Linked DNA regions of Homo sapiens. The protein of the gene in region 1 purifies or fractionates together with the protein of each later gene. This does not show direct contact. Each region holds a gene or a part of one and is shown on either strand. Other genes may lie near its edges.

Region 1 (3,649 bases):
GGGCCCTCCTGGGCCATGGGGTTGCATCCTTAGAAAGTTCTGCCTGTGCTGCTGAGACCCTCCAGGGTATCGGCATTCTTCAACCAGGACAGCCTGTAGCATAGCGTCCTTGCCCCCCATACCCTGGCCAGCCTGCAGCATCCTCGCCCGCCATTCCCTGGCCAGCCGCTGACCCCATGCAATCACCAGTGCCATCTGACCAGGGCACAGCAGGGCCGCTGGTGGCAGACCCACCGTGCCATCGGGGCATTCCATCTCAAGTCCCTGACACGGTGTCTCCTCGGTGCTGGACATGGGCTGGGAACACCAAGCACAGCCAGGGCCCTGGTCTTGCACCTCTGGATGGTCCCAAGGCCCACTGTGTTACTTCCTAAGGCTGTTGGTTAAATTGGCACAAACTGGGAGGCTTGAAATGACAGAAATGCCAACATCGAGGTGTCTCGGGGCCACACTCCCTCTGGAGGCTCCAGGGAAGAATCCTTCCTTGTGTCTCCCAGCTGCTGGTCATTATGGGGGTACCCCTGTGCTCCTTGTTCCTGGGCTCAGGACCCACCGCTCCAGCCTCTGCTTCTGTGGTCTCACAGCTGTCTCCCACGTGTCCTCTTTATAAGGACACCAGTCATTGAACTTATGGTCCAGTGTGACCTCATCTTAACTAATCACATCTACAAAGACCCTGATTTCAAGTAAGGTCACACTCTGAGGTTCTGGGTGGACGTGAACTTCGGGGGACGCTGTTGAACACCCTGGTGTAGATCCAGGACAATCCCCGGGCCCCAGACTCGACTGGGGTGGGGGCGGGCTGGAGGAATGCAGGCTGTGGGAACTCCACCTGTCTCTGCTAGACCCCACCCTGGGGCCTACACGACTGCCAAGGCAGGTCCTGCTGGGCGGGTGAGCCAGGACCAGCCGGCATCTCCTCCCAGGCGGCTCCAAGAAGTGCATCCAGGTTGGCGGGGAGTTCTACACTCCCAGCAAGTTCGAAGACTCCGGCAGTGGGAAGAACAAGGCCCGCAGCAGCAGTGGCCCGAAGCCTCTGGTTCGAGCCAAGGGAGCCCAGGGCGCTGCCCCCGTAAGCACCTGACCTTCCCTGGGGAGCCTGGCTCTTGATGCCCCCCGCCCCAGGAACAGCGTTGCCTCTGGGGGAGTGGCTCTGCTGGGGGCTGGGGGCTGCTGCCGAGAGACGCCTGGTGCCACAGCCATGTGCACCCTCGCTGCTGAGGCTGCCCCCATTGCTGACGCCCCTCTTCCTTGCAGGGTGGAGGTGAGGCTAGGCTGGGCCAGCAGGGCAGCGTTCCCGCCCCTCTGGCCCTCCCCAGTGACCCCCAGCTCCACCAGGTAATGCCCTAGACCACAGGAGAGGCCCCTGTCTGCCCTTGCTCCCCTCGGGTGGGTCCTGCTGCCTCTGCCTTTACCTGGGCACTCAGGGATGAGCACCGGGGCCTGAGCCCCTACCCACAGGGTACAGCTCTTTTTCTTTAATAGACAGTATTTTTTTCCTGATAATACGCAATGGTAATAGTTTAAATGAGTCAGAGAAAGTGAGGTCTTCTCAGGCTCTTAAGAGCATGGCGTTTGGTCCAGGCTGTACCCGCTGCTCTCAGCTGGGCCCGTGGGTGGGCCGGGCGCCCCTGCTATAGCCAGGAGGTCAAGGATCCACTGGGAATGCCATGCTCATCTTTCGTCCCCAGCATGGTTTCTTAATGGGGTAGAAGCAGTGTGGGGGGTGCCTGCCGTGGTGGGTTACAGATCTTGACCACTTGGCACCAGGGGCTCTGTGGGGCCCTGGCACTTAGCAGTGACAGGAGCCAGTCCTGCCCTGCAGGAGCACCCGGGCTGGTGGGCGTCTGGGGGATTGTTAGAATGAGTGAGGTCATTGCCGTGCAGGACCAGCCTAGCCTGGCTGTCTGGGGGGATTCTGGAGGAAGTGGTACCTGGGAGACCCCTGAAGGCACAGCAGGCACCATCCAGGCAGGGCACAAGGACGGTGGGGGCTGCAGGTGGAGGATTCAGCAGGCGCTGAGGTCGGGAGAGACCTCCCTGGGCCTGGCCCCACTGCCCTGTGAGGAAGGGTTCATGTGGTTGGTGTACAGTTCCGGGGCCCCTGGAACGCAGCAGCCTGCAAGAAACCGGGTTTTCTTCCCAATAGGGATGGCCCCGGGGGGTGTCTGTTGGAGACCAGATGGATGGGGAACAGGTGGTCAGGGCAGAATTTCAGGCCCTGGCAGCATGGGAGCAGGGCAGAGACTGGGGAGTTCAGGTACCCAGAGATGCTGCTGGGGGAGCTGTTTTGGGAAGGAGGTGGCTCTCAGGAGGGTGCTGCACCCCAGCCCAGTCTGCATGGGCGTCTCTTGCCTGTGCCAGAAGAATGAGGACGAGTGTGCCGTGTGTCGGGACGGCGGGGAGCTCATCTGCTGTGACGGCTGCCCTCGGGCCTTCCACCTGGCCTGCCTGTCCCCTCCGCTCCGGGAGATCCCCAGGTGAGCCTGCACCTCTGCCAGCGCAACCAGGCCACCCCGGTTCACGGCCGCCTCCACCCACTGACCCTGAAGGGAAGCCACCCCAAGCCTCTCCCATCCAAGATGGAAAGGGGTTCTGAGTCAGGTCACTGGGCCGTGGGGCCGGGGCCTGGGGTTTTCCCACCCTGCCACCTGCCTCCCGGTCTGGCCACACCTGCTGCCCAGCCTGGACAGCTGGGCCCCTGAGGGCAGCAAAGCAGAACAGAGGCCCAGGGCGAAGATGCCACCCTGTCCAAGCTCATCCCAGGCTGCAGCCCACGCCCCCATGGGTAGCCGGCCCCCACCCCCAAGCCCCACCCCAGAGTCCCACTCCAGACAGGGCTGGGGAGCACAGAGGCCACAGAGCTGTGCCCCCCAGGGCAGGTGGGAGTTTGTCCACCAATGCACAGGACGCCGGGCTTAGTGGGGGCGGGAGGCCTCCTCTGCGTTCACATCCCGGTGCTCCTTCCCCACGGCCCACCGAGCCCTGCCCCCATTCCAACCCCACAGGACGTGGCAGTCTGTGGGAGGAAGAGCTCTGGGTGCAGTGGGGACCCACGTTCAGGCGAGGCTCTGCCCCAGCCCCTGAGTGGCCGTCATCAGGCCCCCTCTCAGCCTTGTGCCTCATCACTAGAATAAGGGGCACAGTGGGGGTCATTGCTCGGCTCCTGAAGCCGTTCCTCCTTGCCGTCTCTTTCTGCCCTTGATCACCTCCCCATTCTGCTGGGTGCCATTCCCCTTAACAGGTGGGTCAGTTTAGGGAGGCCCCCGGCAGGGCCCAGCCCTGAGAGGCAGGCAAAGCCACCAGGGCTCGCAGGTGTTGGGGATTCCTGGGGTTCATCAGAGAGCACGCCAAGGGGACCCTGATCACGCTGGCCAGGGCCACCCCACGAAGGGTAAATGTCCCCCTGCTGGGCTCTCCCTTCCTGTGTCTCTGCCCATCTCTCTGCTGTGCCTCGGTTCCCCCTCTGTGAAAAGACATGGTCGGAGCCCTGGAGCTCCACCCGTGGGTTTGGGGATCTGTCACCCGCTGTCTTGTTCTGCATGTCTCTGACTGGTGGACACACGAGCAGTGGGACCTGGAGGTGCTCCAGCTGCCTGCAGGCAACAGTCCAGGAGGTGCAGCCCCGGGCAGAGGAGCCCCGGCCCCA
Region 2 (3,263 bases), on another chromosome or scaffold:
CTTGGCCTCTCAAAGGGCTGGGATTACAGGTGGGAGCCGTGCCCAGCCTCTGCCTATGGCATTTCTTCCCTGTACCCTTGATGGGAAGCTCCCACCCCTAGTACCATAGTGCCTGGAACATTCTCAAGGATCGTTTACTAATTAAATGATCTGGTGGAAGCCAATGCTCAGGGGAGAGGGGGGTGGGCTGGGCCTGGTTTCTCCCATCTCTCATCTTTCCCCAGCCCCCTCTCATCAGGGATCATGATACATCATTGTTGTCATCATAATGGCTAACATTTATCAAGCCCTTAATAAGTACTAGTTACATATCCATATGTTGGCAATGTCAGGTTAAGAAAATATGTGCGTGGCCAGGCGTGGTGGCTCACACCTGTAATCCCAGCACTTTGGGAGGCTGAGGCAGGTGGATCACTTGAGGCCAGGAGTTCGAGACCAGCCTGGCCAACATGGTGCAACCCCGTCTCTACTAAAAACACAAAAATTAGCCAAGCATGGTGGCAGGCACCTGTAGTCCCAGCTACTGGGGAGGCTGAAGCAGGAGAATCGCTTGAACCCGGGAGGTGGAGGTTGCAGTGAGCCGAGATTGCACCACTGCACTCCAGCCTGGGTGACAGAGTGAGACTCTTGACACACACACACACACACACACACACACACAGAAGAAGAAAATTGTGTGTGTTCGTGTGTGTGTGTGTGTGTATCCAGAGAGTTAAATATACCATTTTCCCATTTTAGGGACGAAGAAACTGAGGTGAGGTCACCTGCCCGAGTGATGCAGCTAGTTGGCAGCAGAGTGGGACCGGAACCCTGCTGCCAGGTCTGTGTGCGGTGGAAGTGGTGGTCACGGCCTCACCTGCACCCCTCGCTCCTCCAAGTGTCGGATCAGACTCTTCCTCATGATCAGCCTGGGGGTGGGGTGGGGACGTGGGAGGTGATGATGAGAGGGGACCTGGGAGAAGGGCAGCAGTAGGTCTCTATGGGGACACGCCACCCAGCCATCTTGCCCACCTCACCATTTCGAAACCACAGCCAATAACTGGTTCAGGCAAGAGCAGGAAAATGGGAAATAGGTCCTGCAGAGAGAAGGAAGTGGGGGTTAGCTCCTAGGGTCTCCCCTGTCCCAGAGGTGGGGTGGGCTGGTAGTGCCCCCGCCAACTAGGGTAGCGCTGCCCTCCCACCCCCCAGAATCCCCCAGAATAACCTTTGTAGTTGCCCCAGTGAACAATTCACCCATTGTTCAGAGAGCCTACTCTGACCACCACGCTTCAAGGGTGTGGCCCTCCAGTCACCATTCACCAGATAAGGAATCTGGGCCTTAGAGAACGAAAGGGACTTGCCAGACCCAAAGCAGAGTGGTGGTGGGGCTGGGCCAGGGCCTCGCTTGGTTCCAAAGCTGGACATCCAGGCTGCAGGCCCTCCTGGTTGGGCCTGGCCAGCTTCTTATTTATCTATTTATCTTATTATTAATTTAAATTAATTTTTTTTTTTTTGAGACAGAGTCTTGCTCTGTCGCCCAGGCTGGAGTGCCGTGGTGCGATCACAGCTCACTGCAAGCTCCGCCTCCTGGGTTCACACCATTCTCCTGCCTCAGCCTCTTGAGTAGCTGGGACTACAGGTGCCCGCCACCACGCCTGCTAATTTTTTGTATTTTTAGTAGAGACAGGGTTTCACCCTGTTAGCCAGGATGGTCTCGATCTCCTGACTTTGTGATCCGCCCGCCTTGGCCTCCCAAAGTGCTGGGATTACAGGCGTGAGCCACCGTGCCCGGCCATTAAAAAATTTTTGTAGAGACATGTCTCACTATGTTGCCCAGGCTGGTCTTGAACTCCTGGACTCAAGCAATCCTCCCGCTTCAGCCTCCCAAAAGTGCCAGGATAATAAGCACGAGCCAGCCAAGTGTGGTGGCTCACACCTGTAATCGCAGCACTTTGAAAGTCTGAGGTGGGAGGAGACCAGCGTGGCCAACATGGCGAAACGCCGTCTCTACTAAAAATACAAAAATTAGCCGGGCGTGGTGGCAGACCCTGTAGTCCCAGCCACTTGGGAGGCTGAGGCAGGAGAATTGCTTGAACCCAGGAGGCGGAGGTTTCAGTGAGCCAAGATCGCACTACTGCACTCCAGCCTGGGCCACAGAGTGAGACTCCTTCTCAAAAACAAAAAACAATGGCCGGGCGCGGTGGTTCACGCCTGTAATCCCAACACTTTGGGAGGCCGAGGCGGGTGGATCACCTGAGGTCCGGAGTTCAAGACCACCCTGACCAACATGGAGAAACCCTGTGTCTACTAAAAATACAAAATTAGCCAGGATGGTGGTGCATGCCTGTAATGCCAGCTACTTGGGAGGCTGAAGCAGGAGAATCGCTTGAATCTGGGAGGCGGAGGTTGCGGTGAGCCAAGATGGCACCATTGCACTCCAGCCTGGGCAAAAAGAGCAAAACTCCGTCTCAAAAACAAACAAACAAACAAAAAACCCACAAAAAACCTCGTGAGCCACTGTGCCCATTGGCCAGCTTCTTGAGACCAGACAGCACTTAGTGGGACGACCCCTAATTATCCCACTCCAGGGGTGACTTTAGAGACCCTTGACAGTGTCCTAGGGCAGGCTCTGGAGTCAGACCCAGGGAAAACCTAAGCTCTGGATTTCCAGCTGTGTGTCCTTGGGCAAATTACAGAACCTCTCTGGGCCTCAGATTCTCTAGGGTACCATGGGAGTCATGATTCTTATACCTCCTGGGGGTGCTGCAAGGTAAAAGTCAACCCAAAATATGTTAAAACACTTTATAAATCTTGTATAAGGCCGGGCGCAGTGGGTCACGCCTGTAATCCCAGCACTTTGGGAGGCCGAGGCAGGCGGATCATGAGGTCAGATTACCATCCTGGCTAATACGGTGAAACCCCATCTCTACTAAAAACACAAAAAAATTAGCCGGGTGTGGTGGCGGGCGCCTGTAGTCCCAGCTACTCGGGAGGCTGAAGCAGGAGAATGGCGTGAACCAGGGAGGCAGAGCTTGCAGTGAGCCGAGATCACGCCACTGCACTGCAGCCTGGGCAACAGGGGAAGACTCCTCAAAAAACACAAAAAAAATCCGGTATAAAAAGGTGGTACACAAATATCATTGATCTCTTTGTAGCAAGGTATTGTGGGGGCTGAGTGGGACTTCCTTCTGGACAACAGAGGGGAGCAGAGAGCTCTGGGACTACCACAGAGAAGCTGTCAGAAAGCAAAGGGAGACCGGGCCCAGGGGCTCAGGTATGTAATC

The links.
Region 2: the proteins of AIRE (region 1) and GDPD3 purify together in Homo sapiens (affinity purification with mass spectrometry; 2 studies listed by BioGRID and IntAct, with this or other methods). This does not show direct contact.

The regions. Positions count from the first base shown.
Region 1 is NC_000021.9:44,288,731-44,292,379, forward strand, and holds part of AIRE (autoimmune regulator), read left to right. Parts: intron 1-926; coding exon 927-1,072; intron 1,073-1,257; coding exon 1,258-1,338; intron 1,339-2,364; coding exon 2,365-2,480; intron 2,481-3,571; coding exon 3,572-3,649. UniProt on the Homo sapiens protein: Transcription factor playing an essential role to promote self-tolerance in the thymus by regulating the expression of a wide array of self-antigens that have the commonality of being tissue-restricted in their expression pattern in the periphery, called tissue restricted antigens (TRA).
Region 2 is NC_000016.10:30,107,357-30,110,619, forward strand, and holds part of GDPD3 (lysophospholipase D GDPD3), read right to left. Parts: intron 1,077-3,263; coding exon 1,017-1,076; intron 909-1,016; coding exon 857-908; intron 1-856. UniProt on the Homo sapiens protein: Hydrolyzes lysoglycerophospholipids to produce lysophosphatidic acid (LPA) and the corresponding amines. Shows a preference for 1-O-alkyl-sn-glycero-3-phosphocholine (lyso-PAF), lysophosphatidylcholine (lyso-PC) and N-acylethanolamine lysophospholipids.